2 linked regions of the Homo sapiens genome follow. The protein of the gene in region 1 purifies or fractionates together with the protein of each later gene. This does not show direct contact. Each region holds a gene or a part of one and is shown in the gene's direction. Other genes may lie near its edges.

What was found. Proteins that work in one complex are often made in the same cells at the same time.
Region 2: the proteins of PIP (region 1) and STRN3 purify together in Homo sapiens (co-immunoprecipitation; 2 studies listed by BioGRID and IntAct, with this or other methods). This does not show direct contact.

The regions. Positions count from the first base shown.
Region 1 is NC_000007.14:143,130,172-143,135,751, forward strand, and holds the start of PIP (prolactin-inducible protein precursor), read left to right. Parts: upstream 1-1,905; 5' UTR 1,906-1,945; coding exon 1,946-2,040; intron 2,041-5,022; coding exon 5,023-5,128; intron 5,129-5,580.
Region 2 is NC_000014.9:30,911,221-30,915,856, reverse strand, and holds part of STRN3 (striatin-3), read left to right. Parts: intron 1-2,199; coding exon 2,200-2,333; intron 2,334-3,674; coding exon 3,675-3,850; intron 3,851-4,032; coding exon 4,033-4,080; intron 4,081-4,636. UniProt on the Homo sapiens protein: Calmodulin-binding scaffolding protein which is the center of the striatin-interacting phosphatase and kinase (STRIPAK) complexes.

The DNA.
Region 1 (5,580 bases):
AGGAATGTAAGATCAGCTTGGCCAACATGGTGAAACCCCATCTCTACCAAAAATACAAAAATTAGCCGGGTATGGTGGCACCTGCCTATAATCCCCACTACTCGGGTGGCTGAGGCATGAGAATTTCCTGAACCCGGGAGGTGGAGGCTGCAGTGAGCTGAGATCATGCCACTGCACTCCAGCCTGGATGAGTGAGATTCTGTCTCAAAAAAAAAAGATTGTCCTGTACATTGTAGGTATTGCAGTTTCCTGCTAGCTCACAGAAGAACAGCCTCATTACCTTCAATAGATGCTCTTAACCCATCGTCATCTGCCTTCCTCTGGACACTGCCTTTTGGGAGTGCTGGAGTTGCATCCTCAAGGACAGGGCTATGCCTTCAAAGAGCCAAGCAAAGAACTTTTCCTGCATTTTCCCACACAGACACTTCCTAGATTCTTCTGCCTTATGCCTGCCTTGGTCAGTGTAGCTAGGATGTGCTTCAAATGGAAATTATGCAAGTGAGAAGGACCAGGTGTAAAGACAATTTAATTGTGGGAAAAGGCTTACAAAGGAAGGTCATTGTGACCCTCACAAGCAGTGTTCTTGAGTGGATAGGACATAAACAGGGAAGAAAGCATGTGATCATGAGAACAGCTGAAGTTCTGAGTGAGCAATGACATGAATGGTGTCCAATTCAAAGAAAAGAGAAGGTAGATCCAGGAGCTGAATAAACAGACAGAGCAATTTTGAGAGATACATCCAGAAAGCAGAAGCACACACTTACACTTTAGCTCTGAATCCTGGCTAAAGCAACATACAGAGGCGGTAACTCCTAGAACTCTGATTTTCACTCTGTTGCCAGAGAGGCTCTTCCTGGGCAGCTGTGTGCCATGCAAATGATAGAAACAAATCCCATAGTATTGTAAGTCATAGGTTAAGGAGCAGATTTAATTTCATAAGGAGAAATAACACAATGCCAGTGTCAGCAAGAGCAAGTCTCCCCATCATCCCAAGGAGAGGAATTCTACAACCTGGGTATCTACTGGACATAATGTGGGCTCCATTCTCACAGAAGGAATCCTTTCCACTGTGGTTCTTCCTGTGTGGCTTACGCATGAGACAAGTGTAAGAAAGTGGCCATGTCAATAAGAAAATAAGCCAGCTCTTTGGTGCCAAGAAGTCTGATTTGGGGGTGCCAGCTATTTATAGGAATTGTCTAGAATTAAAATATCACCCTGCCTTGGGGATTGTGGGGCAGCTGGGGATCTTGGACATCTGCAGTATATTGCAACCACACCTGAAATTAAGAAGGACTCAATGACAATAAACATCTTTACATCACCCAGTGTCTTGAACTCACTTCCCCATCATGTAGAGCAGCTCAGGTCTTCTCTAGCTCTTCCACCTCATGATGGGTAGTGACTGCTAGGGAAGTCCTGATCATCCTAGCCCTCCAAGAAATGTTTTGAATAGCATTGCATCTTGAACTCACTATAATTTGATCAAGCAAAGATGTTCTATGTCTCTGGTCTGAAACCTGCCACCACAGCTGTGTTCTCTGCTTTCAGAGACCAGGGGAGCAGTGACTGAAGCTAAGACTACACATAGCACTTCAGACAGGCAAATTAGGAGGGAAAAGAAAACTGAATCTGTAAACTCGGGAAAAACTGGTGTATCTTTTGAGGTCCCAGCCATTTTGAGAAACTCTGATGCTGAAAAAATAAGGAAGAACAATCTGACTCCTCTCTCAAACGCTGACATTCTAGCTGAGTGTTGATTTTTTCTTAGAAAAACAAACTTTGGGTCAACAAGGAAAGATCACGAGTGGGGAGGGTGAATGGGTGATTCACCTCATGGATCTCCCTGGCAGCTCTTGCACTTCCTTGATCAATCTGTATATAAGAAATGTGCTGGGCACCTGGGACACCACTTCTCTGGGACACATTGCCTTCTGTTTTCTCCAGCATGCGCTTGCTCCAGCTCCTGTTCAGGGCCAGCCCTGCCACCCTGCTCCTGGTTCTCTGCCTGCAGTTGGGGGCCAACAAAGCTCAGGACAACACGTGAGCCATGCCCTTCTCCTCCCCACAAAAAAAATTGCAGGGAGGGCTCCTCTCCCAGTCTGGAAATTACATATCTCTTTCTGAGAATTTCTTTCAACTTCCCAGAACTCTAGTCCCAGGAGCTCCCATGGATCTCCTGCCAGGTTCCACTTCTTGTCCTCTTAGGAAGCCCCACCAACTCCTCTCACATTTTTGCTGGGTGTTTCTGCATTGCCAGTGGAAATAAAGCTCCAAATGTACCTACAGGCTGTAATTAGTAGTTAGTCTTCATCTAACATGCTGATCCACATCTTGTTCATAATTTATACCTTTGTTCAGATTTCTGCTCAGTAAACTTTACCTTCTCACACCTTGCCTCCTAGAAGAGAAGCATAACAGGTCTGTGAATTCCAATGGCAGCTTAGGGCAGCTTTGGCAGGACTGGCTAAAGGACCAGAGGCCCTGGCCACTGCCCTGTGGTCTGAGATTGAGCTAGACTGGCAGCTTAGACATTCTTCCTAACCTGAAGTCTGAAGATGAATATGATGACCTCTTGCTCTCACGTATACTGGGACCTGAGAGCACAGGTTCAGAAGTCAACTTATTGAGAACACATGTGTGAAGGAAGCAGAAAAATTGGAGCAAGTAAAATAAAGTAGAAAATGGAGCCAAGGGTCTGGGAGAAAGCAGCGATACCCAATCTAGGGAGTTTTCTCTATAGCAGTAGGGTTTATAATGCTGGGTTTCTGGGTTGTGATCTTGGAGGTACTCTCTATGGCATGGTCAGATATCCTGTCCTGGAGGAAACTGTTCAGGGTTTTGACAAGCTAATGTAATGGAGGCAAGTGTCCCAAGAAACCCTGCATGGGGACAGGTTCAGATCCCACCCCATTCCCGCCAGATGACAGTCCACTTAGCCCTGAAGGGCAGCAAGGTATTCAAATAAGCTATGCTAATTAGGTTATCAACCATCCATCCTGATTTGCCCAGAACTTTCCTGGTTGTAGCACTGCAACTCTGCCCTCCCCCGCCACCTCCACAACCCATTCTGGAAAAGACCTCAGTCCTGGGTAAACTGAGATGGTTAGTCACTCGAACTAAGCTGGTCATCCTATCAATCTGAAACTCATATACAAATGGGAGAGATTTTGAAGTTGCTTAGGTATTTATACCCTTTTCCTGTGCACTGGGCACTACAGCAGTTGGCACCAAAAAATAGAATCTCTCTAAGATGCTTTGCCCCAAGAAAATGGGGCTGTGAGACACTGTGGGCTAAGAATCTCAATTCCCTTCTGTCCCACACAATAACAAAGGTCCGTAGCCGGGAGTTTCTAGGGACGAGAAAATAACTCTCCTGGCCCCGAACCCAGTCCTCATTGACTGAAGAAGAACATTTGACCATTTTATTTGTCTCCATTTCCTTTCCTTTTCAGATTGCAGTGTATGGTCTAAATGTAGAGTAGTATCTAAAGTTCCCAAACATGGCCATATGTCCAAATTTCCTAAGGAGCTAAATAAATACAAATTCCTAAACCCTACCTGGGGACCACAGAAGGAGGATCTTCAAAGATGCTCCTACAAATACCTCCAGTGCATTGAGATGTTTGCTGGGTTTTTAAAATTTTTTATTATTTTATTTTATTTTTCCATAAGTTACTGGGGTACAAGTGGTATTTGGTTACATGAGTAAGTTCTTTAGTGGTGATGAGATTTTGGTGCACCCATCACCCGAGCAGTATACACTGCACCATATTTGTAGTCTTTTAGCCCTCACCCCTCTCCCACTCTTCCCCGCAAGTCCCCAAAGTCCATTGTATCATTCTTATGCTTTTGAGTCCTCAAAGCTTAGCTCCCACATATCAGTGAGAACATACGATGTTTGGTTTTCCATTACTGAGTTACTTCACTTAGAATAATAGTCTCCAATCTCATACAGGTCACTGCAAATGCTGTTAATTCATTCCTTATTATGGCTGAGTAGTAGTATTCCATCATATATATATATATATATATATATATATATATATATATATATATATATATACCACAGTTTCTTTATCCACTCGTTGATTGATGGGCATTTGGGTTGGTTCCACAGTTTTATAATTGTGAATTGTGCTGCTATAAACATGTGTGTGCAAGTATCTTTTTTGAATAATGACTTCTTTTCCTCTGGGTAGATACCCAGTAGTGGGATTGCTGGATCAAATGGTGGTTCTATTTTTAGTTCTTTAAGGAATCTCCACACTGTTTTACATAGTGGTTGTAGCAGTTTACATTCCCGTCAGCAGTATAGAAGTGTCCCCTGATCACTGCATCCACGCCAACATCTACTGTTTTATGATTTTTTGATTACGGCCATTCTTGCAGGAGTAAGGTGGTATCGCATTGTGGTTTTGATTTGCATTTCCCTGATCAAGAGGTTTGCTGGTTTAATGTGATTCTGTTGCTAGAAAATTTTCTCCTAATAATGACTTGAGCCCTCCTACTCAGTAGACAACCACCAGAGCCTGTAGGATGTTATCAGGAAGTGGCATGTGGTATTGTACATTTTTTCTTTTTAAAAACTTGTTTTTGGTCAATGGAAGGGAAGAAGATGCTCGTTCATTGATGGGCATTTGGGTTGGTTCCATGATTTTGCAATTGTGAATTGTGCTACTATAAACATGCATGTGCAAGTATCTTTTCTAAATAATGACTTCTTTTCCTCTGGGTAGATACCCAGTAGTGGGATTGCTGGATCAAATGGTAGTTCTACTTTTAGTTCTTTAAGGAATCTTAAAGTGTCCTAGTTGTTTTATTAAACAAAATTAAATCTGTGTGAAGTTACCAATCCAATCAACACATGAAAATTCCAGGGGATTCCAATGCTGAACAATTGATCCAAGCCCCATAATTTCCCTCCCTTGCCCATCCTGTGCCCCTTGCCCTGTTCATGGCTCCCCCCTCACTCAAAGATTGGTCTCTGATCCTGGTGTTCTGATTCTCTCTTCCCACAATCAGTCGGAAGATCATAATAAAGAATTTTGACATTCCCAAGTCAGTACGTCCAAATGACGAAGTCACTGCAGTGCTTGCAGTTCAAACAGAATTGAAAGAATGCATGGTGGTAAGTAGAGGACTGGGGGCGTGACTTCAAAAGATAATTCAACTCCTTGATTATAAACATAATTTAATCTCTCACTTTAATAATGTACAGTGTACTTAATGAAACATTCTCACTTATGTTATGCTACTTGAGACTCAGAACAACTGTGGGAGCTTGGGACAGATGACTTCTCATTTTCCAGATGAAGAAGTTCGAATCCAGAGAAGTCTAGGATAAATAAGAAGGAAAGGAAGAAGGAATAGGAAGTGAGAAAGAGGGAAAAAGAAAAAAGTGTAAGAGCTAGTAGAGAAGCAGTTAGAGTCCTTCCAAGGTCCTGAGCATGTTTAGTTTAGGATGGAGGGAGGGGAGTTCTCAGAAGAGAAAGCAGCAACTCCACACCATAGGTTGAGGTGGGTGGGCAGAAGAGGACATGCAGGATATGACTCCTCCTCTCCAGTAAGCACTGAGCGACT
Region 2 (4,636 bases), on another chromosome or scaffold:
TCCTAAATTGGTCTGGCTGATCAGAGATAGTCTTGCAAAATCATTTGTTACGTTAAAGTTATTTTATTGGGCTTTTGAGATTTGTGTCAGTGAATGTTTGTATAATTGTGAGTGGGAGGAACTGTGGCATTTTGTTCTGACTTCTCTTAGAAACAAATTCCCTGAGCTTAAAGTAAAAATATTTCTTTGTCTAGAGAAAAATGCTTTGAGTAAATATTATATAATGACTTTTATATAATTATCCTTAAACATAAGTTTAAATTATTGATTTTATAGTTTTTAGCTGCTTCTGGTATTGCCAATAACTGCATACTAATAATTGGTAGGAAAAGATCAAAAGATCAATGCTACAGATTATTCAGATTCAATAAGTGTCATCATTGAAAGATTAAATACTACTTAATATCTCTATATATTTTCTGTCAGGTGCTTTCAGATTCATTTTAGATCAAGTAACTGAATCAGAGCTGCATTTTAGAGCCCTATTTGAGTCAGATTATATAGCTTATTTTGATAGGATAAAATAATAAAATAACAAGATATTCTAAGTACAGTTGAATTTTATTTTGCCATAGTATATATATGAATTGTGTCTTCTCAGAATTATTTCCAGTAGTTTAGTGATGACTGTCAAGTTTCATTACACCTGTTGTGTTTCCTGTAGCATATTTATATCATTTTTCATGGGAATTTTTTTAAAATTGATAATCAGCTTGATTTTTTGTATAATGTGTCCCTTTTAAATTTGCTCATGAATTTTAAGTGTGTTTTGATATATTGAGTTTTATATTATGATTTGAGTATTTCTCCCTTGTTATCTTAATGTTAAAATTTTGCTTTCAAAGCATATTTGAAATGATATTGAAGGTTGTTGCTTAAACTATGACTGTTACAACAAAATATTTAGATAATAGTCATTCAATTATGGCAGAGTTTAATTGGTCAGTAGTATGTATAGAAAGGAAAACGCATTTTAAATAATTGGAACTGTTAATATTAACATGAAAAGCTGTAATAATGCACATGATATAGTTGAGAAAACTAAGTGAAGCTCAACCTGAGTTTAGTTTGAAATTGAAATGGCAAATCTGATCAGAAATTAAAGCTCTGTGGTCAAGATTACTTGCTTCATTTTAGAGTGTCATGGTAACTAGAATGGGACATTAAAATAAAAGTCATAGTCAAAGCTTTAAAGCTGGAAGACAGGCTGGGCGCGGTGGCTCACGCCTGTAATCCCAGCACTTTGGGAGGCCGAGGCAGGTGGATCACTTGAGGTCAGGAGTCAAGACCAGCCTGGCCAACATGGTGAAAGCCCATCTCTACTAAAAACAGAAAAATTAGCCGGGCGTGGTGGCGGGCGCCTGTAATCCCAGCTACTTGGGAGACCGAGACAGGAGAATTGCTTGAACCTAGGAGGTGGAGGTTGCAGTGAACCGAGATCGCACCACTGCACTCCAGCCTGGGCGACAGAGCAAGACTGTGTCTCTAAATAAATAAATAAATAAAGCTGGAAGACATTCTGAAGACCACGTGGATTAACCTTTTATAGAAAGGAAACTGACATTGTTGGTGGAAGAATTTTTTCCTAGACCATTGCTGTTACTAAAGGAATCTGAACAATTAAAGCTTCATTCTAGTGAACTGATATAGTATATAGCTGACTGTAAACCATTTACATTTCAATGTTTGTACTAGTTTTTATCAGGGACTAGGATGCCTAGTACTTCTTTAGAAAGCAAAAGGACTTGGTGACAACCTATTAACATTTAAAAAATACTATATGACTACTTTGAGGTCCTTGAGGTCCATGGTAGAGGTTTCCCCTCATGAATGCAAAAATCTGATATTTAACTCCATTATTTAATCAAAATTTGTCCTATTTCTTATTTAACATGTAAACTATAGTTATAATTGTACTGAAGTGATAAGAGATTTAGACAGACAAAGCTTTTGTGCCCTAGCTTCCACCCCAGAATAATATATCTAGTGCACATTTTATTTGTGGACAGTTAATACACCACAGTTCCAACACATTTGTTTAACACTGCTTAGTAACAGGATTTTTTGAGTAGAAGTGGGAAAATAAAAATTAATTATATTACTGAATATTGTAACTGTTAAGTGCTTAAATTTTCCCCACAATATTGTCTTGTACTGTATGATTTTTCAGCATTTAAGAAGCGGTTTTGTTCTTTATAGCTGAACCAATAACGTTTCCATCTGGAGGAGGCAAGTCATTTATTATGGGTTCTGATGATGTTTTGTTAAGTGTACTGGGCCTTGGAGACCTTGCAGACTTGACGGTAACAAATGATGCAGACTATAGTTATGATGTAAGTGCAGTTTTATTTTTAATTTTTTAATGATTTAATAGAAGGCTCCTTATTTTTTGGAATCACTTATAAAACAGAATTAATATCAAGGTGCATGGAAAAGATAAGTTTGTGTCAATGTGTTGATTTGAAGTGACATGTTTTTCTTTTATAACTACTCTCTTTGTGGTATTTAAATTTTTTTTTTAGGTATTTTGGTGGATTAACTAGAAGTTTGAGATGATTAATATATTGGTCAGTAAATACATCTTGAGTAGTCAACTCTCAATTATCTCAAATTAAGCCATATTTTGGTGTTAACAAGAAAAAAAATAACCTGAATCATATATTTGCCTTCAGAGTACTTCTTAAAAAGCATGTTTTATTTTTGAACTTTTATTTTCTTAAGGAAATATTTTAAAGTTTCTGAACATTTTAAAGTTAGCTTGCATCATTTCCTGAATACTTAACTCCTTCATTAGAGGATTGGGGAGTGGATGGAAGGGTTGGGGAGTGGGGAGTCCAGTGTTAGAGGTGAAACTTGTCTTGGATTTAATTTTTTCTAGTCATTAATATTTCAATTGAGAGTTAACTATACTTGTTAGATCTTTATGTTAATTGCAGTTTTTCAGCAATTTTTTTTTCTTTTTATAATGAGTTTCTTTTTTCCACGTTTTATACTTAACATTAGCATGCTTAGAGACAGCCTTTGGTGGGCTGGATTATTCTCATTAATATATTTTTTTAAGTATATAAGTGACTAAATTCCAGTAAACTTTTGACTGCTTTAGAAGTGGTTTCACAGCCTATCTTTACAGATGGAGAAATGTGAAGGTAAAAAGATAAACCTCTGTCAATATCAAGAATTATGAAAATGGGATAAAAATATTCTTAAAGGGTCTTTAGTTCAGACTTTCAGAAAGTACCTTAACTTGCTGCCTTTAATAATTTCACATGCTAATACGTTTTCTAAATGACAACTTTACTGTTAATACTGTACCGTTGGATATTTGTAATAACTTATGTAATTATTTTTCATGTAAAGTATTGCAGCAATGGTAGTTATTTTGTTCTCATCTGACATTTAATGGGAGCTTTGGGTTTAGCTTAATAGGTAAAAACAGATTAAGGAACTCTTCATTTGACCTAGGCTATTTGTAAGGCGAATGAAATTATTCTGAGTTATTATTAAATGATAAAGTTTTTTTAGAAAGTTTTAAAGGTACATTAAATTTCCACTGGACATTTTAGCCAACAGTTTTAAATATATGTGTTAAACACACCAAAAAGAAACGAACAAACACTCCACATGCCTTCCAGTTTACTACTTTTACCACTAAATATTGTGCTCTTTCCTTTTAGTTGCCTGCTAATAAAGATGCCTTTCGAAAGACATGGAATCCCAAGTATACACTACGTAGCCATTTTGATGGAGTACGGGCATTAGCTTTTCATCCTGTAGAACCTGTGCTGGTTACTGCTTCTGAGGACCATACCCTGAAACTTTGGAACCTGCAAAAAACAGTTCCTGCCAAAAAGCAAGTATTTTAGTGTTAGCCTGGTGTATTTCTTCCAATTTTGCTAATATAAGTAATTATTCCTCATTATTGTTGCATGTCTTTAATGCACACATTTGATCTAATGACTATTTAATATCAACCAGTGATTCATAGTTATTTAATTGCCTTCTCTTCCCCTACCCTTTTTCCCCCTCTTTTAGGAGTGCCTCTTTAGATGTAGAGCCTATCTACACATTTAGGGCCCACATGTAAGTTTTACTGAATTGGTATTTAATTAACATCATCATTATTGTTAAATATTATTTATCGGTCCTCAAACCTTGTAATTTTCTCAATGTTTTGTATTAGAAAAGATGTATTACTTGAATAATAGCTATTTAATAATTGTATTGGTGAGACTATGAATATAATAGTACCATTCAGGCCAGATGCAGTAGTTCATGCCTGTAATCTGAGGATTTTCGGAGGCTGAGGCGGGCAGATCACTTGAGGTCAGGAGTTCGAGACCAGCCTGGCCAACATGGTGAAACTCCGTCTCTACCACAAAATACAAAAATTAGCTGGGCATGTTGGCGTGCGCTTGTAGTCTCAGCAACTCAGTAGGCTGAGGCAGGAGAATCGCTCGAACCTGGGAGGTGGAGGTTTTACTGAGCAGAGATCACCACTGCATTCCAGTCTGGGCTGGTGACAGAGTGAGACCCTGTCTCCAAAAAAAAAAAAAAAAAAAAAGTACCAGTCAGGTGTACATGTTCTCTTAAAACAGTTTTTAGATATTACATAAATTCAGAGGTTGGGGGAATGGAG